Linked DNA regions of Homo sapiens. The protein of the gene in region 3 purifies or fractionates together with the protein of the main gene of each other region. This does not show direct contact. Each region holds a gene or a part of one and is shown on either strand. Other genes may lie near its edges.

Region 1 (4,400 bases), on a different chromosome or scaffold from region 3:
AGAAAAAGCAGGAATTGATTCTCCCTTACAGCTTCCCTACCAACACCTTGATTTTAGCCCTGTAAGACCATTTGCATAGTAATACATGTATTATTTTAAGCCACCGAGTTCATGATAATTTGTCACAGCAGCAAGAGAGAACTCATACGCCTTAGAGACACAGTGTCATCGAAATGCCTAAGTCTCTGGACATAGCGTGTGCCCACTCTGCTTTTATATGTGTTAAGGGGGCTGTCAGCAAACCAAGATCTAGGGAACAAGAGAAAGATCTGTGACATGACATCCAGCAGATAAAGTCCAAGGCAGGAGACTCCGCCCTGCCCCAAATCCTCCCTCCTCCACAGAGGTAACAATGTGCCACCACTGATGGTCCACTGTGATGGCTGCCTGGTAACGCCAAGAACCCCTAAAAAGAAATAAGATTAGTCATTGTCTCAAGTTACCTGTTCCACTGACAGATGAAAACAATCAATGGCAGAATCCGTTTACTTGGCATTTTTCAAAATTAAAGAAAAAAAGAGCCATAAAGGGCCTCAGATTGTGAGAATAGCTTTTAATTTAAAACAATTGAAGCAATAAATCATCCATCTCTCTTTCCATCTCAGGCAAATAATCTCCCAAAACATTTGATACAGTTTAACAACAACTGTGACTAGTGCAAAATAAAATAAATACAAACTCTTTCAGGAGCCAACATCAAAACCTGCTGGACAGGTGGGCACAGGAACAGACTCAGCCTCTGCCAAGGCTGAGACAAGCGGCACATCAAGAGTGGCAGGATTTGTGCAGTGTTTCAACACACCCAGCTTTGAACAGACTCAACAATACCTGGGGAGGGGAAACCACAAGAGGATTTTGCCTACAATGAAACAAATATGCCCAACACCCTCAAGTGGCTAATATCCTTGGTACCTAGAAGATGCTAGAAGAGCAAAGGTAGCAGCTCCCAGGCAAAGCTGAAGACAGGCAGTTTGGGGCTCATTTGCTTTTGTCTTTTAATTGGGATCATACATATATATATTGGTTTTTCGGCAGAAAAAAAAAATCTGCTTTCTGGGAGATGTTCTGTGCCTCACAGTGCTCCTGACTCCAGCAAAAATATTTGTGTTGTTTCTGTCTATTTAGATACTTTGCAGAATTGCGTTTCCTATTTACGGATTTCACTGCCTACCCCACACCATGTAAGTCTAGAGTGGGGCTGTCCAATAGAAGTATAACGTTATCCACATGTCTAATTTGAAGTTCTTTAGGGGCCACATTTTTAAAAAAATAAAAATGGGTGAAAAGAATTTTAATTTCAATTATATAAATATATTAAATTGTTAATATTTTACTTAGTACATCCAAAATAGTGTCATTTCAGCATGTTATCAATATGAAATATTGGTGAAATATTTTAAATTCCTTTTTGGTACCAAGCCTTCAAAATCTGGTGTGTATTGTATGTGTACAACACAGTCTCGATTTGAACAAGCCAAACTTTGAGTAGTCATCGCCACATATGGCTGTTGACTGCCACATTGAATAGCACAGGTCTACCGAGTCTTATGCAAACTCTTTTAGAGTGATTTATGGAGTGGAAAATCTCTGTAACACTGTGCAGGTGATCTCAGACACCAACTCAAGAGTACAGAACCTTGTTCTATAGCGTAGGATTTCTTTTATCTAAAGGACATTATCACACTTTATCTAATCCCATCCCCTGGTCCTGCCCCTGCCCCCTGCCATCTCCCCACAGAAGGCATGTACTGATGTGATTTAGCAGCAGTGATGCCTACAAGATGACAAGGACGGCCTTTCTGTGGTAGACAATTTTGTCAGCACTTATTTGGGGATCACAGCTCTAGCTAAATTAGAATTTTGTTTCCCATCCTCTTCCAGAATTTCAAAATATTCTATAAAGGTGACAGATGTAGTTGAAGGCAGTTCTGAGGCTTTTCTAGGAGGACACTTTAAATGGATTTTTTGTTTTGTTTTTGAGGGGGATGGAGCCAAAGTACCTCATGGACTAGAAAGTTGTTTTTTTCAAGAGTAGAAAAAAAGTGGGGCTGGACGCGGTAGCTCATGCGTGTAATCCCAGCACTTTGGGAGGCTGAGGCAGGTTGAGGTCAAGAGTTCAAGACCAGCCTGGCCAACATGGCAAAACCCTGTCTCTACTAAAAATACAAAAATTAGCTGGGCGTAGTGGCGTGCGCCAGTAATCCCAGCTACTTGGGAAGCTGAGGCAGGAGAATCACTTGAACCCGGGAGGAGGCTGCAGTGAGCTGAGATTGCACCACTGTACTCCAGCCTTGGCAACACAGCGAGACTCCATCTCAAGAAAAAAAAAAAGTGGGATGATTACCCAAAAAAGTATAGATAAGTGGAGCAGGAATACAAACAGAGGGGTCGTGGGGCCACTAAGAATGACACAGGTCCTCAACTGGGGAGTATAAGCTGTAACAATGCAAAAATATAACATCCAAACCTCTAAGTGATCCCTCACATTTTACGTGTCAGACCCTAGTGGTAACCACAGGAAAATAAAAATAAAATGTTAGGGCAAGAGAGGACTTTGGAGCTAATCTAGTCTAACCCACTTGTTTCAAATGAAAAGGCCCAGAGAGGTACAGTGATTCAGTCCCACCTCACTTAGAGTGGAGTCAGGATACAGACCCAGGTGCTCTCACTATGAATTGCAGGTAAGGCTCTGTTCAGGTAAAGGGAATAAATGACTCAGGGAGCAAGAGGCTCGAGCTATCCCCGCTGGACTTCCTATAGCCCAAAGTAAGCACTGGGAAATGTCAGGCACATTCTCTTGCAGGTAGGAGAAAGCAGCCTGGTCAATTCCAAAATATTGAAGCAACGTTGATGTAAAGTGTCACTAACACATGATTCTTCCAATAGTCTTTTCTGCATACTTTTTTTTTCTTTAAAAGAAAATCCCAATCTGAACCAAACTGGATTTCTGATTAGTTATATGGGCATTTAGATCAATTGGCAAAATAAAAACTTTGATACATTACCTTTTCCAAAGACATATTCATTGGAATTCTACATAAATGGATATCAAAAGATATTTACAGGAAGAAAGTGCTGTCTTTCACACAGACACCCATATACAGGGAGAATTTCACAATTAGACCACCATGCCTCACATAGAGGACTGCTAACAGACTGATAATGAGTTGACAAAATCCACACGTTATTCCACTTTTCAGTCACAAATAATCGTGTCTACACAAGTGTAAAATTAAGCAGTACATTCCAGACTTTTATAGGGGAACCTGCCTTGTATATATTGAGATACACATATAAATATGCTTTTAAGCAAGTAAGAAACCCATTATTTACTCCAGTTTTTCCCAACTCTCAATCTGAAGTAAAGAATAGCACATATACAAAACTTTGCCTTGTAGAAATAGCCCTTTGTGTTGTGGGGCAGAAGAAAAGGCAGCCATAGCACAATTTTTTTACAACATGTCTAGGCATCAAAAGGGCTAGTTAATGAAATCAAACAATTTATAGCCTATAGTCTTAAATATTGATTTTACATCACTGATTTTTAAAAGTTTTATTACAAAATTTTTATTTTATTCAAAATACACATGCTATCTTTGTCCACATTTCAATCCAAACCACCCAGTCACCCCCAATTCCAAAAAACAGGCCTTTGTTTTATAACATCGCTGAAAACAAGCCATTTTTGACGTGGGTTTGGAGTCATTATTCTATGACACTCACTCTGCCCTAAGGGGACTGGATTTTGTAAGGCTGCTTACTGTGGGGATGTCCACGGGAGTCAGTGACTCTCATAACAGAGTGGGACTGCTTTAGGAAATCCAAGTTAACATTAGGAGGTGACACCAGTGGGCACACTTTGGTAGAAAAGTACTGCACCGTGAGCTCCCTCCTTCTGCCAATCTCATTTGTTCCCAAATTGAGGAAAACAGAGGAGAAAAGGCAGGGAGCACCATCTACTACAACCCACCATGGCATACCACATTCTACTCATTGAAGGTTCACTGTAACCAATCTCACTGTATCCTCAAAGCATGATTGAAAGAGAGGGCAGGTGTCATCATACCATTGTTCAGATGAGGACAGTGAGGCACAGGACGGATGAAGGACTTGCCCAAGGTCCACAGTCAGCTAGGAGCAGCACCCAGGTCTCCAGGCCATGGGCCTTAGACACCATGTCTCTCGGTCACATGGCACCAAAGGATCACCTATGAGACAGGGACCCCCATCACACCCAGAATCCTGATTGTTCACAACTCACTACATCCTAACCCAATGTCTGTGCTTTGTTTCACCTGGTTGGTTCTGTTTATTTTCCTACAGTTTCTAAAAAGATCCTTTCAACCAAACAAATACATGTTAAACAGACAGCAATAAATTCTTTTTCGTTTGACCAAATA
Region 2 (4,400 bases), on a different chromosome or scaffold from region 3:
GGTGGAACCCCGTCTCTACTAAAAACACAAAAGTTAGCCGGACGGTAGTGGTTTGCACCTGTAATCCCAGCTACTCAGGAGGCTGAGGCAGGAGAATCGCTTGAGCCTGGGAGGCAGAGGTTGCTGAAATCGTGCCATTGCACTCCAGTCTAGGCGACAGAGTGACACTCTGTCTCAAAAAAAAAAAAAAAAAAAAAAACCACAAAGTGCTAGCTATAACTAGCTCTAAAAAGCAGAGCTTATTTTCTCATTCCTTCATAGAGCACAATTTGATCCAGATGGTTCATGCTGTAGATTCTGCCATTGTAGCATTCAGCAAGACTTAATATACAACATGTACTTAGATTTGTTTGTTTCTTTTTTTTTTTATATTTCTATGTTTCTATATTTTAATGTTTTTTAATATGCATAGGGTTTTTGGTTTTCTGGACTTTTTTTGTACCCCCTTATTTTTGGCATGTCAGTGGAATAGCAGACTAACTCCTACAGTTTTTGTTAATTTTCTTTGAGATGGGGTCTTGCTCTGTCATCCAGGCTGGAGTGCAGTGGTGTGATCTCAGCTCACTGCAGTGTCTGCCTCCTGGGTTCAAGAGATTCTCCTGCCTCAGCCTCCTCAGTAGCTGGGACTACAGATGTGTGCCACCACGCCTGGCTAGTTTTTGTTATTTTTAATAACAAGGGCAACTGGAAGTTGACTTTGAAGTACCTACTGAATATGCTAATGTCTTGCTAAACACTGTGAGGGCAGTAATGGAGAAGGCAGCTCTATCTTCAAAGAACTTAAAATTGTTAGGGATTTAGGAACAATCCATATGAAAATTATTAGATAGAAGAGAATAGTAGATGAGTTTTTTTCATCTGCTATCTTGAGCTATTTTTCCTAATGGGAGAGTATCATTCCTCAAGGAGATTATGGTTAAAAAAATAAACATTGAGAACCATTGCAGTAAATGACAAAGTAGCTAACTGAGTTGTAAACTGTTTTGGAATTTAGTGTAGTATTTTCAAAACTTTGGATTGTAACTCACAGTAAAAAACAAAACATTTTACAGACATGTGTATATATGTGGATACACATAAAATGATACAAAAGTTTACGAAATAATGTCTTTGAAAGCATCCATTTGCACTCTAATCTTTCTTTTATTCCAGATTCTTTCCCTATCCCTGCCTCCCTCCCTCCCTTCCTTCCTCCCTTTCTTCCTCCCTCCCTTCCTTCCCTCCCTCCTTGCTTCCTTCCTTCCTTTCTCCCTCCCTTCTTTCCTGCCCTCCTCCCTCCCTCCCCTCCCTCTCCCCCTCCCTCCGTCCCTTCCTCCTTCCTTCCTTCCTTCCTTCCTATTCCATTCACAGCCTGCTAATATTATTTTACAACTCTGTGGATACCGTGCTGTTCACCGGGATTGCAGTGATGAGTAGGCAGACATGGTTCCAGCTTCCAAAGATCCTACAATCAATTGAGAAAGATAGACAAATAAAGAAGTAATATGATAAAATATGATAAATACTCTGATAGGTAAAGTATAGGCAGTAGAGGCCATTCATTCAGTTATTCATAAAGCATTTATTCAGCACCTCTTTGTGCTAGGAACCGTTGTAGGCATTAGAGATTCTGCAGTGAACAAAGCTAAATTACATTTCTCATTGAGTTGACTTCTTGGTGTGGGTGGGAGTGGTAAGTGTATATAAGAAATAAGAAGTAAACATAATAATCAGTTAATTTCAGATACTGATTAATGAGATGATAGTAAAACAGGATCATGTGATAAAGATGAATGAGAAAATAACCTTGGATTGGGTAGCCAGGAAAGGCTTCTCTGAGAAGCCAACATTTGAGCTGAACCCTAAATAGTATTAAGAGCTAGTAATGTGAGATCTGTGGCCTGAACATTCTCGGCAGAGGGAATTAGAAAGTTTGTATCCTGTGGAAAAGGCACGCATCCTTGGTCTTACAGGATTAGGGAAGTCTTCCTGAAGAGAGAAGAATGAAAGACAGTTTATAGCCAAGAGGAAATCACACTAGTATGCTAGAGGATTTTTTAATTTTATTTTTTATTTTTTGAGACGGAGTCTTGCTCTGTTGCCCAGGCTGGAGTGCAGTGGTGTGATCTTGGCTTACTGCAACCTCTGCTTCCCAGGTTCAGGCAATTCTGCCTCAGCCTCCCGAGTAGCTGGGATTACAGCATACCCAGCTAATTTTTTTTTTTTTTTTTTTGTATTTTTAGTAGAGATGGGGTTTCACCATATTGGCTAGACTGGTCTCGAACTCCTGACCTCAGGTGATCCGCCTGCTTTGGCCTCCCAAAGTGCTAGGAATACAGGCTGAGCCACCATGCCCTGCTGGCTAGAGGATTTTAAAAGAGGAAAAGGTCAGTGTGAGTTAAAAGTGGTTGAGGCAGGTTTTATGGAGGTGTGAGATTTGGAGGGTGAGTAGGAGTTAGATGTATGGAAAGGTGGAAGAGGAACCTTTAGGCAGAGTAAGGTATAAGCAATGATGTGGATATGGGAATGGGAAGCCCTCTTGGGACTTATATTTCACAGGGAACAGTTGAAGAGATCTGGGGCCAAACTAAGAAAGGCTTTGCTTGAGAGAAGAGGATAATGTAGGCAGTGAGAAGCAGGGATTAGTGATGTGATAAAATCAACATCTGGCTTGAAAAACTAACCAAGTGGAATGACAGAATAGAGAACTGTGTGTCATTGGACCTTTAGATCTTTAGTCTGCCTCCTATTTTCAAGTGTGAGTTAAGATAATTACCAATGCACTTTTTTTTTTTTGTCAGTTTCCTGATTGACTTCAGAACTTCTGGCAGTTGTAGAATTTTCTTTTTGCTAAGTTGCTTTCCCCCCCCACTGCATGTATAATTGCAGAACGCTAATGTTGCTTTGCAGTTACCTGCCTGCTTAGTTATCCAATTGCTAGAGCACTGAGGTTTCAGTCCCAGTGCCAGCCAGTTAATTTACCCCATTTCAGAGTTAAATGCTGCAGATGTGAGCCTGATGAGAAAATTATCACAATGGTGATCAGAAAGAGAGGGGCTAACATATCAGTGTAGAAGAAAAAGCAACTTGTTCTAGTGATAATGGGTTAATAGTGATGTCTTATTGTTCATTTATTCTTCATCAAATGTTTGAGAACTTGCCTTGTTCTAGGCACTAAATTTGAGAATACAGATGTGAATCAGAGGGCCAAATAAATGTAAACATATTTAGCATGTTTCTTATTGGTTACTTCAGGTTGAGTATCCCTTATTCAAAATGCTTGGGCCCAGAAGTGTTTCGGATTTTGGATTTGTTTCAGATTTTGGAATATTCGCATTATACTTACTGGTTGGGCATCCCTAATCAGAAAATCCAAAATCTGAAATGGTCCAAGGAACATTTTCTTTGAACATTGTGTTGGCATTGAAAAAGTTTTGGATTTTGGAGTGTTTTGGATTTTGGAATTTTGGATTAAGGATACTCAGCCTATAGTTACAATGGATTGTAGGTGCACAAAAGAGACAAAAACTAAATCAGTGTGAGACACTAACATTTATTGAGTGCCTATTGTGTATCACATACTGTGATTTTTTTTTCCCCCATAGGAGCAGCTTTATTTTATAACGAGGTATAGTTGTAACTATGCCAAAGTTGTTACAACAAAAGCACTTTTTACCTTATCTAATTTTATTGTCACAGTAAACTGATTAGGCAAGTAAAATAGATATAATAATTAACCCCTTTCTACAAATGAAGATCTGTGAAATGACTGATTGTGTTTTGTGGCTTGTCTAAGGTTAAGGCTGTTTGGTGGTTGGATATATTCACTATTCCTGGTAAGAATAAATAAAGGTCGGATGAGCTACTATTTGAGGTTAAACTAAGAGTAGTAAGACTTTTTTGTCTAGAAGGACAAAGATATAATCTAAGTCCAAAATCATGAAAAATATTAGGTAAAATATATAGTATGTCAGATGGGGTAAGTGCAATGGAGAAAAAGCACAGAAGGGGAAGGGGGATAAGAAGAGCAAGGGTCCTATTTGGGGCATTGCAATTTAAAATGGAATCATCAGGGAAAGCCACATTGAGAAGGTGATGACATTGAGCAAAAGACCTAAAGGAGATATATAGCAAGAAGGCCAAGTTGTCAAGGTACAATAGGAAGGAAGGTGGGAGAGTTGGAGGTGAAATTGGGAAGTGGGTGCACAGGACAAGTGGTATAGGATTCTGTGGATTTTTTTTTTTTTTTAGTTGGAGTTTCATTCTTGTTGTCCAGGCTGGAATGCAATGGCGTGATCTCAGCTCACTGCAACCTCCGCCTCCTGGGTTCAAACAATTCTCCTGCCTTAGCCTCCCGAATAGCTGGGATTATAGGCCCCTGCCACCATGCCCAGCTAATTTTTTGTATTTTTAGTAGAGAC
Region 3 (4,400 bases):
ATCTTAAATGTGATATGTAAAATCTGGTAACTAAAACCAAACAACTGAGTTAATTTTTTTTTTTCTTTCTACAGTAGATCTAGTCCTGAAACCAGATGAGTTAGTTCTTTAAAAAGCAAAATACAAAGCATACTTAGCATACAATTTCCAGGTTCTGAAGTGCAATAAATGTGCAATGTGGGAAATACATCAAATGAGAATGGATTTTTACAATTTGACTTCATAAGAAGAATATATAAAAGTAACATGTCAGAAAAAGCTCTAAGAACATGACCTCGTTGGAAAACAACCGTTTTCCTCAAGTGAGTCAAGTGCCAGATGACGCAGCAGCTGGTGCTTCTCTCCTGTGTGCTTCCACAGGACCGGCCTCTGTGGTTTGCTGTTTCCCACTGTCATTAGCTGAATGCATGTCTCCTTCACTACGTGGTGATACTGCAGGAACAGGCACCCTGTGTGAATTCATTTATGATCCCTTAGCATAGAGCTGTGTCACTATGGGTGGGATGAATACTGTGAGTGTTCAAATAACTGAGAATAAAACACTCTAACCTATGAAAGTCATGAAGTATCTGGTATGCACTGCTGCTGTCAAGGGTTAACCAAATTTTATATAGCCCTTAGTTACCACTTGTTAACCCATTTATGCCTAGTGTTCCATTACTGGAACGCTAAGCTTGTGGGATTTATATTCTACTGCTCAAGGTCATTGCCAAGGCCTGATTTTTCACACAAAAAATTCGCAACCTCTGGCACAAACGGGTTAAAAACTGGAGTATTTTGAAAAACAGTATTCTTCAGCACATATTTAAAACACTATAAAATTACTGCATATAGCATCCACTTTAGTAGTCAAAAAACAAAAACAAAATCAATCAAAATCTTCAATAACAGAAAAGGATAAGGCACAGCGCTACAAGCTTTGGATCTCTTGGTTGTAACATAGTCAAATGGTCGCATGTTAGGATTATATTAACAGGGCACTGCTGTTGCTTTATTACTTTTTAAAAATAGCTTTTTGGAACTGAAAAAATACAACTTAACCACTAAGGAAGTAAAAAAATCACTCATAGTATGGCTCTCTCTCTCTCTCTCTCTCTCTCTCCAGACATATGGATAATGAGGGCATGGGAACCTTCCTCCTCATTCCCTGCCACTTCCTCCTGTTTCCCTATCACAGGAGGAAACTCCTGTTAAGTTTGGTGGATGCACACAGACATCTCAAAACAGGATTTCCTATCTCATCAAGCTAAAGTAATTATAGCTCTAAATTACACTTCAAGAGGAGTTTATAAATTTGATAAATGCATAAACTGTTTTAGCAGTGTCAAGACAGGGCTTAGAAAGTGACCTCAATTCTTACAGTGACAAAGAAAGATGACTCTATCCACTTAAAATTCTATGCTCTGTGACCAGCCAGCAGAGCCTCTCACACAAATGACTTTGGGAGGACCATGATAGGACTGAAAAATGAAAATGGTCGGTGTTGAAGGAGTCAGGTCTCATCGTTTGCAATTCTGTCAAAATCAATGGAAGGCAGGAGATCATGGGCTAAACGCTTCTGCGTTCTTTGGTTGATTCTACCTCGAATTCTTCAACTCAAATTTGGCACAACAATAATATGAAAAATGCTGATACAATTTGTATTCTTTTCAGAAGGGGAGTGTAGAATAGCAGCTGGTTCTACCATCATATACATGACCTCATCTGTAAAACAAATTATAGTATCTTTCTCACAGAACTATTGTATTAAATGAATATATGCAAAACTCTTAGAATACTGCCTAAAACACAGTTAACTACAGAGGTGTAAGTTCATACAACTTCATAATAGAGATAGTATTTTCTTAAAAGAACAGCTAACAGCAGCTGATTACTCAAAAATTATGCAGTGATTTTTATTTTGGGGGCTCAGCTCAATAGCAGGTAGCATAAAATGGTTTGGGGGACAGGTGACCAAAGAACAGAAATCCTTTAAAAAAAAAAAGGTCTTTAAACAATTCTAAACTCAAAAGGTCTTACAACAACTTGATTTCAAACCTAAAACAATCACCACCACCAACAAAAAAAAGGTAAATTTTCACCCTCTTTTTTTTTGGAGAGAGAGTCACCCTACCGCCCAGGCTGGAGTGCAGTGGCGCTATCTCGGCTGACTGCAACCTCTGCCTCCCGGGTTCTAGCAATTCTCCTGCCCCAGCCTCCCTAGTAGCTGGGATTACAGGCGTACATCACGCCCAGCTAATTTTTTGTATCTTTAGTAGAGATGGGGTTTCACCATCTTGGCCAGGCTGGTCTCAAACTCCTGACCTCGTGATCCACCCGCCTTGGCCTCCCAAAGTGCTGGGATTATAGGCGTGAGCCACCACACCCGGCCTTGCCCTAACTCTTAAAACTTTCAATGATGAATAAAGTGGCAGGGAGTCATTTTGAGGCATAAAAAAATTCTGTACAAACTTTTCATTTAACGCTTAACCAAAACAAAATAAGGCCAGGGTGGAAAATATCTTATATGGCATTATTAAGTTCAGAGATTTCTACATACTAAAGATAAGCCTGTCATGGAAATTATGAAACTCTCAACAGATGCCATAAAACAGTGAAATTATCTGATATCATACACAACACCTGATATTGCACATCATGGAAAGCTTTATTAACAAAGACCCCAGGGTTTAATCAAATATTGAAAGGAAAACAAATATGCTACCGTTAACACCCACATCCAGGAAAAGCTTATGTAAGAATTATAAGTTTTAAATAGGTGAGACTGCTTATTTTTTAACATAGAAAAATTGCAAATTTGTCAATCTTTAAGAAAGGATATAGTAAAGGCTTACCATGTGACCGTCCCAGTTTACTTAGGAATACAGAAATAGGTAATTAAAATAAATTGTGCAAACATATATTACATCAATCTGCCCAAATTATAAATTCAACGATGCATTAGGACTGTATTCAGTGCAATCAAAACATTATCAGTTACGGCTGCTGCTGCTAATGCTCATGCTCCTAAGAGAAATGTGTTGTAAAACCAGGCAGAACGGGCTGGAGAGAGACTCTCGTGGACTTGGAGGATGAATAAGCATTCCTTAATTAGCCCATCAGGTTAAGTGCAAGCATTAATGGGCCCTTCCTAAAGTCTAGCTTGACATCTTTCTCCAAACATGGCCAAGAAGAAAGTTCCATTAGCAATATTAATACAAGCTTAGTTGATCATTTTCATTCAATTAACTTCTTTCAATTAAATAGATAGCTTGACAAAAGCAGTGATAAAAGACCCAAAGGGACAGCTGATGACTCGAACTGAACATTAGTGTGCGAGAGGTCGCTGGTATTAAACGGACTGTAAATCTAGCATTCAATTTGGAAAATGCATTTCTTCTGCTCTCACTCCTTTAATGAGCAATTTTAGCTGACTAGATGTGTTTGCTGCAGAAATTTCATGGGAAGTCAAGCACCCTTTTCCTTTTCTTTTTTTCCATCCCAACAGTTACATTCTCACTGGTGGTGGTTTCCTGCCAACATTCCAGCCACAGTAACTCAAAACTTCACTTTCTGGTTAAGAACGAAGATATGTTAAAATAATTTATATACAACTAGCATTAAAAATTAATGACCTACTTTACGTTGTTAATCAATTTTTGAAAGGTTTGAAAAAACAATAAAATCTAAGAAATATTTAGTGAAAAATAAAAACATTTTAAAAACTGTATTTATATTTCATCGTGTCACAGTTAAGTAGTTAGGGCCACATAGAAAAGATGCATGTAACAAGGTTTAAAAACATGGTTTTAAGTGAGGCAAATGTAAATTAAAATGAAAGTAATTTTAGTTAATTAAATTACCTTAATTAATCAAAAGTACTAAAATTACTTTTCTTAATTAAAAAGGTATATAGGCCAGCTGCAGTGGCTCACGCCTATAATCCCAGCACTATGGGAGGCAGAAGCAGGAGGAATCCATGAGGCCAGGAATTTGAGACCAGCCTGGGTAACACAGTGAGACTCTGTCTCTACAAAAAAACTAATAAATTAGCTGGGTGTGGTGGCATGTGCCAGTAGCCCCAGCTACTCAGGAGGCTGAGGTGAGAGGATTGCTTGATCCCAGGAGTTCAAGGCTGCAGTGGAGTATGATGGTGTCATTGCACTCCAGCCTGGGAGACACATCAAGTCCATGTATCAAAAAAAAAAAAAAAAAAAAAAAAAAAAAAAAAAAAAGTCTTGCAAATTAAAACATGTCTGAAACAAACCTGCATTTTTATTCCTCTGCAACGAGTCAAGACAAAAGTTTGTACATTTTTCAATGTCAGTAAACAAAAAAATACATATACTCTATACCTTAAATAACTGAATCCATCTTTTCTGTTCCATCTGTATGCATTGTTGCATTTCAGAGCTAGTAGT
Region 4 (3,691 bases), about 62 Mb from region 3:
CTAACTGTAATGCATCTACTTTATCCTCCTAAAGAAAGTAACAGGAATTCCTTCCAGATACTAGCTGTGGTGTTTGTGTTTCAAAGAAAATGGGTGAATAGTTGAATTCATTTGTAAAAGTTTGGAAAGTGTACCAACTTAGAACTTTGTAAGTTCTTCACAAACAATCAGATGAGTAATAAAAACGTAAGACTCAGCTGTCTTTTCCAACATTGATAACCCACTGCAAATGGTTTGTTACTTTTCTTATCCCTACAATCATCGTTCGACTACTGTGTTTTTATCAGAACCCACTGGGTTTAGAATGGAAGGACAAAGTAGAGACATAACACTCGATGATTAAAAAATAGAACACAAGTGTGTCTAGTTCCTAAGAAGGAGAGAAAACAAGATAGGTGATCTTTCCCTCATATCTAAGATTCTTCCTCTCATGTAAGTTTCAGAAGAGAGATTGTTTTTTTCTTCAAGACAGTAGATCCTATTTACAGAAAGTTTTCTAAGAAAGTAACAAAGGCGTCATGAGGATGTAATTTCCTCTGTTGCTTTGCCCAGGGTTTAGTGGACAGTGAGAATGAAGGAAAATGAAAAACCCCAGGAGGACAGAGATGGTGAGAGGCAGAGGAGAATGATTCAGTACAATTTCTTTACTACTATTAAAACACACTTGTTCTTACAGCAAGAGGCTGCATTGTATTTGTGTTTTGGCCACAGTTACCCTTTACTTTCTTTTGAAAACATTATTTATTTACAGGCACAATCCCTGATTCTCTTTTTCTTTTTAACTGTTGATAAAAGCAATGAAATGTGTAGAGTTCTTCAGTGTCATTGCTGAAAAGTCAAAGCGGGGTTAGGAAAAAGAGTCTTATTGGTAAGTAAACACAAAGATGAAAGGAGACAGAAGAGCTTTATTTAAGTTCTCTAAATAAAAGTTCAAAGATAAGGAAAAATTACTTTAATTCCACCAATAAAAAAATTACAAACAAGTAGCCATGTATTCTACACTAGATGAACATAAGTGTTTAAGCACAAGCAAGGTGAATAAGAAAAGTTTTCATTTCCCTGGGCGAGGAACATCTTCTCCCTTTGTCCTCAGCATCAGTTTTACTTGCCCCAAGTCAGTGCATCACAAGCTTTGCTGCTAGAATACGCCTTAAGATGCAGGGCAGCAAGCAATCCTCCAATTGTTCCAGGGTGTGATCTTGTTTTACTTTGTTAATTATTACTATTTTAAGATTTCAATAGTTTTGGGGGTACAGGTGGTTTTTGGTTACATGGATACATTCTTTAGTGGTGAATTTTGAGATTTTAGTGCACCCATCACTGGAGCAGTGTACACTGTACCCAATATGTAGTCTTTTATCCCTCACCCCACTCTCAAGCTTCCCCTTGCAAGTCCCCATAGTCCATTATATCACTCTGGATGTCTTTGCATCCTCATTGCTTAGCTCCCACTTATAAGTGAGAACATATGGTATTTCACTTTCCATTCCTGAGTTACTTCACTTAGAATAATGGCCTCCAGCTCCATCCAAGTTGCTGCAAAAGACATCATTTCATTCTGTTTTAGGATGTGTTCTAATACCACTTGCTGCAAGCAAACTATTTTTTGAAAGATCAAGCTTTATGTGAATAATTCATACAAATTCAGCATTCTATTCCATGATATAGATCTTGTTTTAGTACAAAATATCTCCACCAAAATATCTGAGTAAAACTGATACTTAAAAGAGATTATTGTATCCACCTATGACTTTTCTTACACAGCCCTGGGAGTAAGACAATCCCAGTTCAGAAGCACAGTCTCAACTGAGATTAACCAGTTAGGTGATTGCCAGTTAACATTAAATGATAGCCTATTGGAATATCTGACATCATCTCTATTCAACACTCCAGCATCCAAAGTTAAATATGATGGAGAACCACACACATAAAAGAAATCTGCTCACAACTGACAGATTTGTTTGCAATTTACTTCTGCTTTAACCTCTAAAAAATGATGCTAAGAGCAATGAGCTTATCTAAAAGTGATTATAGCAAGAACAAAAAAAAAAGTGAAGCAAAATTGACCTCATAAACCACAAGGCCCAGAGCTTAATCACCTACATTTTTCTTTCTGCAATCCACTAACTAGCAAGCCTGATTAACACACTAATCTTCCCAAGTTTCTCAAACTTTTACCATTTTCAAAAAGTCTCTCTATTTACTTTTCGTAGCCCACTGTCACTAGCAAAGTGCTCCTTATCTCTTAGCTACAATGCTATGAAATGTCAGTCTGCTACATAAAAAGACCGAAGTAATCAACTAGGTCCCCTCACACACTTTCTTTCCCCCATTTTCCTATGCTTCCTTGTCACATGCACTGGAGCCATTGAGTGTGCAATATTTTTCTCAAGGAGTCTGGGAAAGTATTAATACTAACCAAGAAACCATACCAAAAAGACACACTATCTAGAAAAAACCTTAAAAATACCCTAACAAGAGCAGGAGATCCCTCTACTTTACATAACCCCTTCACTCTTTAACTTCATGCTTAAAAGAAAAATCACACTTCATGTCAGAAACACAACTTTGAAAGATAAGCATTAAAAGTGAGTCTGCACCTGTACTCTTGCCCCATCACTTTATATTGCAGTTAGCTGTGTGTATGTCTGGATCCTCTGCTAAATGGTGAGATCCTGGAAGGCAGGAGTCACATGGGACTCATCTTTGCATCTCCAGTCTCTGGCTCAGTGATGTCTGGTTCAAATGTCCATTCTTGACTATTAACTGGACTGATGTTTCTTTCTCATTTCTAATTTGACTCCAAGATCTCCTTGTTTTGACTATGCTCATATGCCTTCATCACTGAAATAAACTTGAGTAGCTTGGTTTGGGGAGTAGGAGTTTGCAAAACTAGTGACAGTAATTACTGCTAAGGGGTAATGGGGGAAAACACCAAGTTTAAGAGGCCAATTGCAAAGCCTGCTATATGGCCATTTGAATGAGAATGTAAACATATTACTGATAAGGCACAGAATTATATTGGTTGGAAGAAAACCTGGGTCCCATTTCAGATGAGATAAGATATAAGAAGTTTTACAAAAATATTTCAGGTACTTAGTAAGAACACTATACATATTAGTTATTACTGTTCTATCAGTACATTCTGAATACATCCTTGTCTTTGAAAATTCCTTAACTTTACTTCTTCTTTATTTCCCCATACCATGATATTCTAGGATTAATGGCAGTGTTTGTAAAGTGTTTTGAAATCCCTGAAGTGTTATAATCAACCCAAGTACCATTTTATTTAGGCAAACTGTGTCTACCCAGCAAGTCCACTTAAATACCTAGGATTGGGAACTGCTGTCTCATAAGGCTTAATAAATAATTCCCTCTGGCTCTAAAAGCAAGTACTTTTTCAATGACAATGGGAGGGAAAGCAAAGGAATTGCTCTATGGCATCTGTTGTGTAATGTTCTTCTAATGGCACATCTCGATAAGTGCATGAGAGTCCTTGGAGAGTTACAGCACACAGTAAAGAGAGAGTGGTAAAAATCCCAGTATTTCTGAAAAGGAAGGCAAGACAAATTAAAGTTAGCAAGGCCCCACAGTTTACATCAATAAAAATCAGCAATGCTGCAACTAACCTCTATACGTAATGGCAGCTTCCTAGGGTCTCTATTGGTGAGGCAAAAATTAAACGCAATAT
Region 5 (4,400 bases), on a different chromosome or scaffold from region 3:
GGAATAAGATAAAAAGTAGACAGTAAGCCCACTGTGAACTCTAAAAGCCCACCTTTGCAGGAACTCCTGGAAAGAAGAGAAGAGGAGGTAATCAATGGCGCTGAAGTCCTCACTACTCTTGTTCAGGCGGAACTGGAGGAAGACCAGCTCCCGCTTTTTCACTTCCCGGGGCCCCTGGACAATCAGGGCAGATTTCTGCAGAGAGAAAAAGGACAGAGTCTCAGTCCTGGGAGAGTACACAGAGGCCTCTGGGTCTGAGGGCAGAAGTACTGACTGGAAAGCCCATAGCTCCTTGCCCAGTGGTCTCCAAAGGGACCACTAGCCAACAACAGGACTGGGCTGGGACTCATGCTCATTCCTGGGGAGTTTTCCCCATATGATGCCCAACCAGAGCTGAATGCAGCTCATCCTCTGTCCACTTTTCTCATTGGTTCTTTGAGTTATGGAAGCTCTTAATTTAGCAAGGATGATCACTTTCATCTGTTATGTGTGCCAATCTTTTCTTCCAGTCTGTCATTTTTCTTTTAACTTTGTTTCCAATGTCATTTGTCCTATGGAAACTTTAAATTTAACGTAGTAAAACCTTAAATCCTTTTCTTTACGGCTTTGGGTTTTGCTTGCTGAGGAAAGCCAAAATTATATCAATATTCTCCTCTATTTCTTTATAGCACTTTTTAATCTTTTTTACATTTAGATACTTTATATACCTGGCTTTAAGCTCTGTATATAGTGTGAAATAGGGCTCTAACTCCTACTTCCCAAACAATGCATAGAGACAGGTTTTGAAGCCTCTTCCCCTCCCTCCTTTATCCTATACTAAATTCCATGCAGAACCAATATCTATGTCTGCTTCTGGCCCTAGCAGAGCCCACACATTTGTCTGTCTCTGTCCAGTACTGTGCCACTTTGATTCCTGTGGTTTTTCCACTGTTCTGAGATCTGGGAAGGTGCTCTCCCTACTACTCTTCCCCATCCCCAAACTTGTCTTGGTTATTTTTGAACGTGTTCTAAGTATGCTTTAAGACTAGCTTGCTTAGTTCCACAAAAAAATTCACTGGGACTTTTAACTGTGATAGAAACTGAATTTATAGATTAATTTTAGAAAAAAATGTCTTTTACATCAACTTTTATAAATAAATGCTCTACAGAGATTTGAAAAAGAGTGAGTACACTGTCAGTTACAAAGTTTTGTGCCCCCACATGTATACACACACATACATACTCTAAATTTATTAACTGCACTATTCAATTCTTATCCTTTCTAGTTTTTGTCTATTTGATCTGTGAATTTCTGAGAGGGGTGTTTAAATCGTGCTCTAAAGTGATGGTATTTTTTACTTCTAACGGGTTTTGCTTAAAATATATAAATGTCATGCTGTTTTGTACATAAAGTTTTGGAACTGTTCAGTCGTCTTAGTGGAGAGTATGGAGTTGAACCTCTTATCAATATTAAACATCCTTCTTGCAAACTTTTGCACGTGGAATTCCACACTATTAATATTGTCACTTCTGGTTTTCGTTGCATCTTCTCAAGACAGCTTTGTCCATCTATTTATTTTTCAACCTTTCTGTACCATTTTGTTTTAAGTGTGCAACAGAAAGCACTGTCCCTGGTTTCTATTATCCATTTCTTCCTTTAGTACTAGAATGGCTTTCCCAACCCAGATTTCAGCAGAATCCACTCCCCCTGCTGGAGCCTCATCTCTGCCCTCAAATGTAGCCACGTGATAAAGTTCCTAATGTGCGAAAGAAAAGGGGACTCATTCAACTCCACCCCATTTCCTGAAAAGGGAACTGCTTGCCCTCCACCTTCCCAGGCCTGGGCATGTGCACAGACACACACACACACACTGCACACACACACACACACACACACACACACACACAGCCCACATGGACCAGAACAATGCCCAGGGGACAGCACAGTGACACACACACACACACACACACACACTGCCCACATGGACCAGAACAATGCCCAGGGGACAGCACAGTGACAAGACAAAAGTCATGGCTGGACTATCCTATGAGGCAGTACTGCCCACTACGCCACACGGCCTGCATGCCAGGACTGTTCTCAGAGAGAGAAGGAGGCTTCTCCCTCATCTCAGCCATTGTATTTGCAGGTTTTGTTTTTATTTGGTAGCTTAGCCTATACTCTGACTAATACACAATTTGTTAGCTGACACTGGAGTGTTCTTGTTTTTTTTTTTTGAGACGGTGTCTCGCTCTGTTGCCCAAGCTGGAGTGCACTGGCGTGATCTCGGCTCACTGCAAGCTCCGCCTCCCGGGTTCAGGCGATTCTCCTGTCTTGCCCTCCCAAGTAGCTGGGACTACAGGCACGTGCCACTACACACGCCTGATTTTTTTATTTTTATTTTTAGTAGAGACGGGGTTTCACCATGTTAGCCAGGATGGTCTCGATCTCCTGACCTCGTGATCCACCTGCCTCGGCCTCCCAAAGTGCTGGATTACAGGCATGAGCCACCACGCCCGGCTGGAGTGTTTTATGGTTGCAAAAAAAATCAAAATGAGGGAACAGCCAAACATTTGGGCAGTGGGAAAATGGCGGGCAGTAAGGAAATAGATAAGGATCCCGCAGGCTGGAAAGGTGGCAAACCTTATTGTGCCAGAGCAGAGCATTTGGTAAAAAATAACTACCATTAAATTGAGAGCATGAAAGAAAGCACCAGAAAATCAGCAAAATTCCGAAGATTTTACAAATACAACAGGATGAGACCCTCGACTGGGGTCACTTTCACATGAACTTGATTAGATGCGAACAGCCAGAAGCCTACACATTTCTGAAATCTCACTGCAAACATAGGCAGTGGCAGGAGGCAGGTAAGAAGCCGCCCTCCAAGTTTGCAATTGTTTAGCCCTAAAGCTGCTCACACAAGCAGGAAGTGAGTGGCACAAGCTGTGCAGCCACCAGGGAGGGCGTATTTTCTAATGTCCACTTCAGATATGGCCACAGAGCATTACCACCAAGGCAGAAGCTCCCAGGGGACGAGGCCAGAGCACACAGGAGTCTCTTTCTGAGGGCAGCAACAGGTTCAAACCAAGGAGCTTACTTCATGCCAAGAAGGCGTCTCACCGGTCCCACCCTGCAGGGTTCCACCACTGCTGCAGAGCAGAGCTGCGGGCCCTTCCCCTTCTTCCTTTTCCAAATGGGAGCTCTACTGCTCTCATCATATTCTTCCTCCACTGCTATATGCTGGTTTGGGTAGGAAACTTGGTGGATAGGGAGGAGATAACTTCTCTGTTAGTTTATAGCTTGTGGACTTCAAGAAATTGATGGAGGAGATGAACCAACACTCAGACTTGGGGGCAGTAGCTGCATTCAACTTCATTTCCATAAAAACAACTCTCTCTTTGTGCCCTTATTTCAAGGGTTTTTACACTCTTTAGTCGAATTATGTAACTATTGTAACAAGTGCAACTGGCCTACACAGGTTTGGAAATGACCCTCACTGACTCCTCCTAAGCATACACTTCAACTGGGGGAGGAGAGGAGGGCATCCAGAGAATAGGCACCTAGTGGGACGGAAGCAGCCACGAGTTTTCATTAGCGTGTTTTACAGAGAGATGAAGGGAGCTGGGAATCCAGACAAAGAGCTTCTATTATACATATAACTCCACATTGGAATTGTTTAAAAGTTGCTTTCCTTTTTGTTTTAATTAGCTTCTACTTCCCTATTCTAGAGTCCATTCTATTTGTTCATCTTGGTCCTTTTCTGTCATTGGTTTCATGCAAATGTCTGGTGACCATTAATTCTCCATTCTTATTTATGAATGAAGGATTAGGTTGACTAGTATAGGTCTGGGTTTTGGTTTCTTCCAAAGTAGTAAATTTCTGTTTCTCTAATAGGCCTCTCCCTTGCATGGGAAAGCTAAGTATGCTCTGTGGAAGCACACTGAGTTTTCCAGTGTGTTTTACTCTGGGAAGAGTCCTTTCCTTTAGTTCTCTCTCCTTTTCCATTGTAGAAGTCTGCTCTGTTTCCTATGCCTACACAAAGAATCATCTTCCCTTCGCTTCTGTAGAGAATGGTTCCAGGGTCTTTTACCCAGAGGCAACCATCCCCAGCGGCTCTGCATACCTGGGGAGGGTATAGGGTGTGTCTGGCCCAGCCAACAGGCAGTCCAGTAATGACTACCCTGCTCTCTAACGGTGCTGATTCCAAGCTGGGGGTTTGGAAGGAAAGCTTGTACCTCTACAACAGGTCTCTCCTTCATCTGTTTTGGGTTAGGGATTTGCTCTAATTTGTTTGCTCCACCAATCTGGCCCAAGCTGTTTTTTATGCTTTATACCAGTTCCTCAAAATGTCTGGTCCACTGGTGATATCCTTTCTTCACGTGCAAAGCTATTATTGATGTTCTAGTCTGTTCTATCTCATTCC
Region 6 (4,520 bases), on a different chromosome or scaffold from region 3:
GCAATGAGTCTTGCCCGAGGGAAGAAGAACTGAGAGGGTCACTGAGCTAATGGGAGCATGAGAATCCTGGGTGTTTGGAAAATAAGATGCCACAAGGCCAGAAATGGCACTGAAAGGAGAGATCCAAAGGTACGAATTCAGATTAATCTCATGTGCTTCCTAACCTTGCCCATGTAGGGTTTCTGCCTGGGCAACATGTACTTCATATTTTTAAATCCAGATTTTTCTATTTATTCCTGTCAAATTCATTTTGTTGGTTTCAACTCCACTTTTGAGCTATCAAGATCATTCTGAATCGTGATTCTTTCTTATAGCCTAGTGGCCATTCCCCCTAGGAGCAAGTCATCCACAAATTTATTAAGTGTACTTTGTGTGTTTTGATCTAAGTAACTGTTTCTTCATCTTGGATTCAGGGAGTCTGTAACTCACCTGAAACTATATGTGACACTTTATGTGTATAAGCATCTTTCAGTGAAGATGAGTTTAGAGTTTTCAGCAGATTCTCAAGGTGTTCCATGACCTCAGAAAAAGGTTACAAGCCACTGATCCAACTATTCATCAGTATTTTGAACAGAACAGTGCTAATAAGGACAGAGCTCTATAAGACTACCAGTAGTGCTTTCTTTCCTGGACTGCACTGATCCATCAAAAATTTTGGGGTGTAATTGTTGACTATTACATGTCAGTCTCTTGCGATTTGCCTCTATAATAAAAATGGAAAGGAAAAATGAATTCCAGCTACTTGGGCATTCTGGTAATTGAGATGTTTACACTGTTGTTTACTTTTTAATCTCTAAATATTAGGTCATTCTTAAGACCTTCATTATTTTGCTTCTTGTGTCCATCAGACACCATATACCATACTATCATATTTAGTATGAATGAAATTATAAATGCATCAGAAATCCCTGACATTTTCTGAAAATGGACGCATCGAAGAAAATGCAGAAATAAACGCTTGCTATCTCTTCTCTCCATGGCTCTAGATAAGTGTAATGTTAATTTCCATTTTAACTCTCCTTAAAACCTACAGAGACTCTACCTCAATCTGTGTATGGTTATGATTTATATAGAAAGGAGTTTGCAGTTTAAGAAAATATTTTACATGAAAATCTGAAAGTGATAAATGAGAAACTCACTACTTTGTTTAAAAAGGATTCACCTTAGAAGGAAGTGAGACACAAAAAGTACATACTGTATCATCCCATATGTATGAGGGCCAAGAAAAGGCAAAGTTAACCTCTAGTGATGGAAAACAATGAGTGATTTCCTAGGTCCAGGGCAATGGTGGGATCGCACAAAGGGGCATGAAGAAACATTTTGGGCTGATGGAAATGTTTTCTCTCTAGATGGGTGTGGTGGTTTCATGGGTATGTGCTCTGTCAAAACTCATCAAATTGTACACTTTAAATGTCTGGTTTATTATACATAAATGCTATGTCAGAAAAAGTTGTTTATAAAAGGACTAGCCTTAGGAGTCACTAAAATGAGACATTATGAGTATTATTTATTGAGCCTTAAAGTAAGATTTAAATATGATTAATTCCACAAGTGAAAAGGTAAGTCTACCTGTAAGTTTCTTCAAGGTGAGATGTGGGTGAAATATGATCATGAGAAAGCTTTTCAACAGGGGAAGAAGAAGTGATATCAGTGCATTTTAGTAATATTAGCATTCATATAAGATTGGTATCGCTTTATTAATGTGGAATGTACAGGCAGTAAAACAGGTTATTTAATTAGTTGAAATTATCTAAAATAGATCTTAAGAGTTCACTTAGAACACTTTTCTGGACTGCCTTTCAAAGTAGATAACATCAGACACAGTGATAACATAATAACTCATTCAAAACTAAATTGTACATCACCTATGATATCAACATTTTGTATTCACTGAAGGAAATTATATTTGAAAGTGTTTGCCTGTACATTATTTGACAAAGTTGTGGGGATTTTTTGTTTTTTGTTTGTTTGTTTTCTGTTTTTGTTTTTGTTTTTCAGATGGAATCTCACTCTGTCACCCAGGTTGGAGTGCAGTGGCACAATCTCGGCTCACTGCAACCTCCACCTCCTGGGTTCAAGCGATTCTCCTGCCTCAGCCTCCCAAGTAGCTGGGATTACAGGCATGCACTACCACGCCCAGCTAATTTTTGTATTTTTAGTAGAGAAGGGGTTTCGCCATGTTGGCCAGGCTGGTCTCGAACTCCTGACCTCAGGTGATCCACCTGCCTCGGCCTCCCAAAGTGCTAGGGTTACAGGCAAGAAATTGTGTTATTTTTTAAATTTGCCATGCTCAGATATTGGATACCAGGGTGATTTCTTGGGAAATCTAATATGAGGAATGAAGCATTAATTATAAGACCTGATTTTAAATGCTACGTACCAATTAATGTATACCCTTTACATATTCTCCTCTATTGTATTTGGAGAAAATTTTCCAATCTATGAGATAATGCTGATGAATTATTTTCTTAGTGGTCAATATAAAAATGAATGAGGAACTATTCCTAGAAATAATATTGAATCTAATTAATGCCACCTTGTCATATGTGCATGTGGAACATAAGAGTAGCTAAAAAGAGGCCGGGCGCAGTGGCTCATGCCTGTAATCCCAGCATTTTGGGAGGCCAAGGTGGGCGGATCATGAGGTCAGGAGATGGAGACCATCCTGGCTAACAACGTGAAACCCCATCTCTACTAAAAATACAAAAAATTAGCCGGGCGTGGTGGCACGTGCCTGTAGTCCCAGCTACTCAGGAGGCTCAGGCAGGAGAATCGCTTGAACCCAGGGAGCGGAGGTTGCAGTGAGCCGAGATCGCACCACTACGATCACAGCCTGCGCGACGGAGCAAGACTCTGTCTAAAATAAAAAAAAAGAGTAGTTAAAAAGAGAGAAATAATATTTTCTGAAATAACAACACAGGTACTGTTGCAAAACTCAACTAAGTTAGAAATCACTTGCCCTGTCATTTGTTATGCTTACGTGTTAGTAAAATTGTTAGTATTCTATATTGGTAATACAGGAACCCTTGCTGATTTAGCTGTTATCTTGGCGTGTTTATTCTGGATTCATAGTAGGAATGAGCACCTTGTTAGAAGAAGGTTGGTCAAAATGGAAGGAGGAGGTGGAGGTTGGTTAGGTTATTTGAATTCCAAATGGCAGTAATGGGTTCCTTAATGATTAATGCTGTACTTAGGCCACCAGCCTATGCCTTAACCACTCCCTTTTCATCTTCACTTAAGGGCTCAACTACAACCCCAGGCTCTGACTCTGGCTCTGGCTCTGGCTCTGGCTCCAATTCCGACTGCGTTTCTGGCTCCAGCTCCAGCTCGATGTCAAGGTCAGGCACTGCCATAGGCTCTGATCCTGGGGCAGGCTCTGGGGCAGGCTCCTGAGTAGGCTTTGGCTCATAGTCTGGTTCTTGGATGGTATCAGGGCCAGTCTCATGAATGGAAGATGGTAGAGTTACTTCTAGTTGGGTAGCGTCTTCTCTTGGCATTGCTTCGCTTTCTCCCCTTGGGTTTATCTTTGTCATTGGCCTGCAAGAAAGAAGGCCCAGAAAAGAACAAGTTAGGGAGATGCTAACTTTGAAATTTCATGTGAAACCATATGTTCTGTAGCTTCAATGACCATAGGTCCCAGACTTCAGGAAATCTGTTATTTCTGATATTCTGACTCATTGTCAGGCCATAGGTCATTTTGGATTCAGAAAGGTTAGGTCTCAACAATATCATGAAAGTTTAAGAAAGAGCAGTGTTTCAAGGTGGGAAAATAATGTCAGAATGAAAGAGTCTAAGAATCTAATAAGGTCTTTAAGGTCCAAATTCATAGCTCTGATGTATCGCTATTTCTCACTCCATCTAGTACAATACTTGGCACCTGGTTGATACCCAATAGATAGTTGTAGAAGCAAGGAGATGAAAAAAAATGAATGAGTGAGATACACACTAGGAAAGAAATAGAGTGATTAAGAGCATGAGCTGTGGGCTGGGCCACATTCTAACTTCTGTGTTCCCTGGGCACTGTCCTTGTGGGTCTCTTGTTCCATAAAAAAATTTAAAATTATATTTCATGACTATGTTGGTATTAAGACAAGTATGTTAGTATTATATATGAAAATGTTTTCTTGGACCTAAAACTGTTGTGATAGCTAAATGAGTTGATGTACATAAAGTGCTTAGAACAGAGCCTGGCACACAGCACTCAATAAATAGCAGCCATCATCATTCTTTTTTAAATTCAATGAGAGTAAACAGAAAGATACCTCTGATATCTTATACTAAAAGGAGTGCTTAGGAATTGATGACTGAAAAAGACATGCCTGAGAAATGTTTGTATTCAAGTAAAGACAACAAAATGAAGGCTTACTCAAGTTCCGCGATGGTCTTAGAATTTCTTTCTTTTGCCTTTGCTTTTGCCTTATTCCTTGCGAAGCACACAACAGAGATGATGATGGCGGCACCTACCAGGCTACCAATCAAGGCCCCAACAATGATTCCAACTTCTGGATCTGAAGGATACA
Region 7 (4,400 bases), on a different chromosome or scaffold from region 3:
TAAGTGACAAAATTTGGAGAACACATATACTTAGCTTGTATTTGTGATTAAATAGGATTTAATCAAAGATCTCAAATCAGAGTTAAGTGGAAATATGGAAGAACTGATCCTGGCCCTCTTCATGCCTCCTACGTATTACGATGCCTGGAGCTTACGGAAAGCAATGCAGGTACTACTATATGTCATTTATTATGAATATTTTGTCCTATTTCATATGTAAAACCGTACAAATTATGACAGTTCTGAATTTACAGTGGTAATTAAAGCAATTCTTTATTTCACATCATCCATCTGAATATATAGTTTTTAGTTCTACAGAACAAAGAAATATTTGACGAAGATTTAATTACTTGCAGAAATTTCATTTTTCTTTGTATAATCTTCCCTTCATTTCATGTAGGGAGCAGGAACTCAGGAACGTGTATTGATTGAGATTTTGTGCACAAGAACAAATCAGGAAATCCGAGAAATTGTCAGATGTTATCAGTCAGAATTTGGACGAGACCTTGAAAAGGACATTAGGTCAGATACATCAGGACATTTTGAACGTTTACTTGTGTCCATGTGCCAGGTGAGTATAGTATGAATGCTTGTGCGTTGATAGAGGGAACATACTTTAAAAGCCTTTTGCCAGTGAGCATTCTTTATTCCTTTTAATATTTAGCCACCTTGCAATATTGCCATCTTTAAGAGGGACAACACAGAAACCAGTGTACAGATTTCTTTGTAGTTACTATTGAGATTTATTCCTGTAAATCTGGCTTTTGTAAGGAATTAGAGATTTAACCTCTAAGGTTGTATGGAATCAGAAACCAATTCGAGGCTCTGTGGCTGGGATGGGGATGAAACTGTACATTTGAGCTTATCACTATCCTGCCCATTATGCCCCACCATCAAGTGAAGATGTGCAGGACTGCCATAGAGGTGCTACAGGAAGTGAGGACTATGTGAGGAGACCCAGAAATGCAGAAAAATGTTTTAGGGTTCCCAGTAATAACTGTGATTAGCACCTTCTTTATTTTGATTCCCCAGGTGTGCTGGAGAATTGACAGAAAATACTCCAAATAGGGTATTTGGAATGGCATTAGAAACACACTTAGGGCCAGACATTGTGCCTCACACCTGTAATTCCAGCACTTTTGGAGGCCAAGGCAGGAGGATTGCTTGAGGCCAGGAGTTTGAAGCCAGCTTGGGTACCATAGCAAGAAACCATCTCTATAAAAAATATTTTTAAAAATTAGCCGAACATGGTGGTATGTGCCTGTAGTGCCAGCTATTCAGGAAGTTCAGTGGGAGGATCACTTGAGCCCAGGAGATTGAGGCTGCAGTGAACTGTGATCGCACCACTGCATTCCAGCCTGGGCAATAGAGTGAGATCCTGTCCTTAAAAAAAAGAAAAGAAAAAAAGAAAAGAAGCACACTTAGATGATGAAGGTGTATTTGAAAGAGATTATGTAAATGACTAGCATGCTGATTCAATATCAAGAGTTATTGCCTATTGTGCTAGTGCACAAGATTGGACCATCTGGAGGGATCTAAAGGAGAGGAGGGGCTCTTAAGAGCCAAGGGAGGGGCTGGGTGTGGTGGTTCATGTCTGTAATCCCAGTACTTTGGGAGGCTGAGGCGGGTGGATCACCTGAGGTCAGGAGTTTGAGACCAGCCTGACCAACATGGTGAAACTCCATCTCTACTAAATACAAAAAATTAGCCAGGAGTGGTGGCACCTGTAATCCCAGCTACCTGGGAGGCTGAGGCAGCAGAATCGCTTGAACCCGGGAGGCAGAGGTTGCAGTGAGCTGAGATTGTGCCATTGCACTCCAGCCTGGGTAACAAGAGCAAAACTCCATCTAAAAAAAAAAAAAGGGAGGTAGCTGTGGAAAGGATAGTGGATATGGAAATGAGAAAGCAAAGTAAATGGGTTGAAGGAAATTGAATTTACCTAAATCAGAGTAACAGGAGGGCAGTAGGTTAGGATTTAAAAGAAACAAGAAGGAAAACAGACAATGCTAAAAAATGGCTATTAAGATTTTACATGAGGTGCTGAGTCTCTCTTTATGCAGAGTTCAAGGCCCAGCCCTACCTTTTCCAGGGCATGAGTAGAGGAGTAACTTCCTGAGAAAGTGTGTGTGAATCCAAAGGCAATAATCTGGGAAATTTTTTGTGAGTACCTTTTCCTGTGTTATATTCAGTCGCCCATGTAGAATGTGCCTCTACGTATTCCTTGTGCCAGTTGCTCAGAAGACAGTTCTTCAGCTTCAAGGAGGATTTTTCCATCTTATTCCAAAGATGGTCCCTGAGACTCTAAAAGGCAGCCTTTTCTTGTTTGGGTTTGTCTTTCTGTTTTTGAGAGAAACCAACTGCTCATTAAGCTTAAACTCTTCCTTCCTCCTTCCTTTCTTCCTATTCCAGGGAAGAGTGTGGTATACAAATAGGCACAGTCTAACAGAACATGAGTTATTTGTAGCTGCTTCTGTAAAGCTTATGTGTCATTTTTATGCGTGTATTTATGGTAAATACTTACATATTAAGATTATAATTCGATGGCTGAGTGTGGTGGTGTGAGCTTATAGTCCCAGCTACTCTGGAGGCTGAGGTAGGAGGATCACTTGAACCCAGGAGTTTGAGGCTATGATCATGTCTGCAAATAGCCATTGCACCCCAGCCTGGGCAACATAGTGAAATCGTGTCTCTTAAAAAAAAATATTATACTCAGATGAAGAAAAGAAAGTTTATGAAGCCTCCATATTATATCCTCCCTCCCTCCTGCCCTAGAGTTAAATTTCTTGAGGGCAGAGACCCTGTCTCTCCTGTGTCCCTACCGCTTAACACAGTGCCTGACACAAAGAAAGTGCTTAATGTCTCTTAGTCGCATGAATGAATAAAAAGTAGAACTCAGTACAGTGCATATTGATCTTAAATTCCAGCTAAGAGAGCTGTTTCTTCATTTGAGTGGTAGTTAATATCTCCTAGTAGAGATATTTTTGTTTAAACATTTTGGGTTTAATTTAGCTCCCAAAAGCCCTCATTTTTAACATAACCTCATTAAACCGTGATCTTATATTATAAAATCCAGTTGACAGTATAATAAATTACTAGTTATATTTCCATGCATAGAAATGAAGCATATGCATGACAGACATTATGGATTAATCTTTAATAAATTATCTCTTTAGGCCAGGCCCAGTGGCTTACATCTATAATCCCAGCACTTTAGGAGGCTAAGGCAGGAGGATCACTTAAGCCCAGGAGTTAGAGACCAGCACCTGGGCAACATAGTGAGACATGCTGTCTCTACAAAAAATAAAAAAATTAACCAGGCATGGTCGTTTGTGCCTGTAGTCCCAGCTATCTGGGAGGCTGAGGTGGAAGGATCACTTGAGCCTAGGAGGTTGATACTGCACTCCAGCCTGAGTGACAGAGCAAGACCCTATCTCAAAAAAAAAAGAAATAGTCTCTTTAAATCCAAAAGTGAACTAGATTGGAAAAAAAAAATTTAGTAGAACTATTATTTATTTCTTCCAATTCCTGCCTTTCTCTTTTGCAGGGAAATCGTGATGAGAACCAGAGTATAAACCACCAAATGGCTCAGGAAGATGCTCAGCGTCTCTATCAAGCTGGTGAGGGGAGACTAGGGACCGATGAATCTTGCTTTAACATGATCCTTGCCACAAGAAGCTTTCCTCAGCTGAGAGCTACCATGGAGGCTTATTCTAGGGTATGAGCTTTTCTTTTGAAGATTTGGCTTCTGCTGTAAGATACAAAAATATTTAACCCTTTAATTTTGTTTGCAGATGGCTAATCGAGACTTGTTAAGCAGTGTGAGCCGTGAGTTTTCCGGATATGTAGAAAGTGGTTTGAAGACCATCTGTAAGATATTTTTGTGCTTTGCTTTATTTTCTTTTTAAATGAGTGGGAGCTTTGAATAGTTGTTCCCATTAAATGTTGATAATATAGTCCACGTGGAATCTGCTTAGGCAGTAGCTGATCTAATCCTTTGGGGTTTGTTTTTTGTTGTTTGTTTTCTTTATTGGATAAGCCCCCAGAAACAGTCCTGTGTTTTTACATACAATTTCCTATGAATGGTAGTTCTGTGATCAAACAGGGCTGTTTGGGGATTATTTGGCCTTCATCTGTAGGCCTGTCTTGATAACTGTGCCAGAATACCTGATAGTTGTAGCACTTCCTTTAAAGAGAAAGGGAAAGTCCTGAGGAACTCACAGTGTCACCACGAAGCAGTTTGAGTCCTCAAAACAGATATTTCAGGTACTCAGCCCAGTGAGACTCATTTCCTTTTTGAAGTTAACCAGTTTCTGGTGGTCTAATACACAGATGTCTAACAAAGTGAAAGTTTCATTCTCATGGATATTAGGACTAAGGGGAGTATTAGTAACACTTTGGTA

The links.
Region 1: the proteins of UBE3C (region 3) and USP13 fractionate together in Homo sapiens (co-fractionation; one large-scale study listed by BioGRID). This does not show direct contact.
Region 2: the proteins of UBE3C (region 3) and RRM1 purify together in Homo sapiens (affinity purification with mass spectrometry, with the first as the bait; one large-scale study listed by BioGRID). This does not show direct contact.
Region 4: the proteins of UBE3C (region 3) and ASB4 purify together in Homo sapiens (co-immunoprecipitation; one large-scale study listed by IntAct). This does not show direct contact.
Region 5: the proteins of UBE3C (region 3) and PACC1 purify together in Homo sapiens (co-immunoprecipitation; one large-scale study listed by IntAct). This does not show direct contact.
Region 6: the proteins of UBE3C (region 3) and VSIG1 purify together in Homo sapiens (co-immunoprecipitation; one large-scale study listed by IntAct). This does not show direct contact.
Region 7: the proteins of UBE3C (region 3) and ANXA7 purify together in Homo sapiens (affinity purification with western blotting; one study listed by BioGRID). This does not show direct contact.

What each region holds. Positions count from the first base shown.
Region 1 is NC_000003.12:179,785,540-179,789,939, reverse strand, and holds the end of USP13 (ubiquitin carboxyl-terminal hydrolase 13), read right to left. Parts: 3' UTR 539-4,400; downstream 1-538. UniProt on the Homo sapiens protein: Deubiquitinase that mediates deubiquitination of target proteins such as BECN1, MITF, SKP2 and USP10 and is involved in various processes such as autophagy, endoplasmic reticulum-associated degradation (ERAD), cell cycle progression or DNA damage response.
Region 2 is NC_000011.10:4,097,103-4,101,502, forward strand, and holds part of RRM1 (ribonucleoside-diphosphate reductase large subunit), read left to right. Parts: intron 1-4,400. UniProt on the Homo sapiens protein: Provides the precursors necessary for DNA synthesis. Catalyzes the biosynthesis of deoxyribonucleotides from the corresponding ribonucleotides.
Region 3 is NC_000007.14:157,207,870-157,212,269, reverse strand, and holds part of UBE3C (ubiquitin-protein ligase E3C), read right to left. Parts: coding exon 4,335-4,400; intron 1-4,334. UniProt on the Homo sapiens protein: E3 ubiquitin-protein ligase that specifically catalyzes 'Lys-29'- and 'Lys-48'-linked polyubiquitin chains.
Region 4 is NC_000007.14:95,537,428-95,541,118, reverse strand, and holds the end of ASB4 (ankyrin repeat and SOCS box protein 4), read right to left. Parts: intron 3,549-3,691; coding exon 3,360-3,548; 3' UTR 886-3,359; downstream 1-885.
Region 5 is NC_000001.11:212,379,843-212,384,242, forward strand, and holds part of PACC1 (proton-activated chloride channel), read right to left. Parts: intron 196-4,400; coding exon 53-195; intron 1-52. UniProt on the Homo sapiens protein: Chloride channel gated by pH that facilitates the entry of chloride ions into cells upon exposure to extracellular acidic pH. Involved in acidosis-induced cell death by mediating chloride influx and subsequent cell swelling.
Region 6 is NC_000023.11:108,076,065-108,080,584, reverse strand, and holds the end of VSIG1 (V-set and immunoglobulin domain-containing protein 1 isoform 2 precursor), read right to left. Parts: intron 4,509-4,520; coding exon 4,367-4,508; intron 3,538-4,366; coding exon 3,204-3,537; 3' UTR 1,401-3,203; downstream 1-1,400.
Region 7 is NC_000010.11:73,379,346-73,383,745, reverse strand, and holds part of ANXA7 (annexin A7), read left to right. Parts: intron 1-55; coding exon 56-169; intron 170-400; coding exon 401-571; intron 572-3,544; coding exon 3,545-3,715; intron 3,716-3,791; coding exon 3,792-3,867; intron 3,868-4,400. UniProt on the Homo sapiens protein: Calcium/phospholipid-binding protein which promotes membrane fusion and is involved in exocytosis.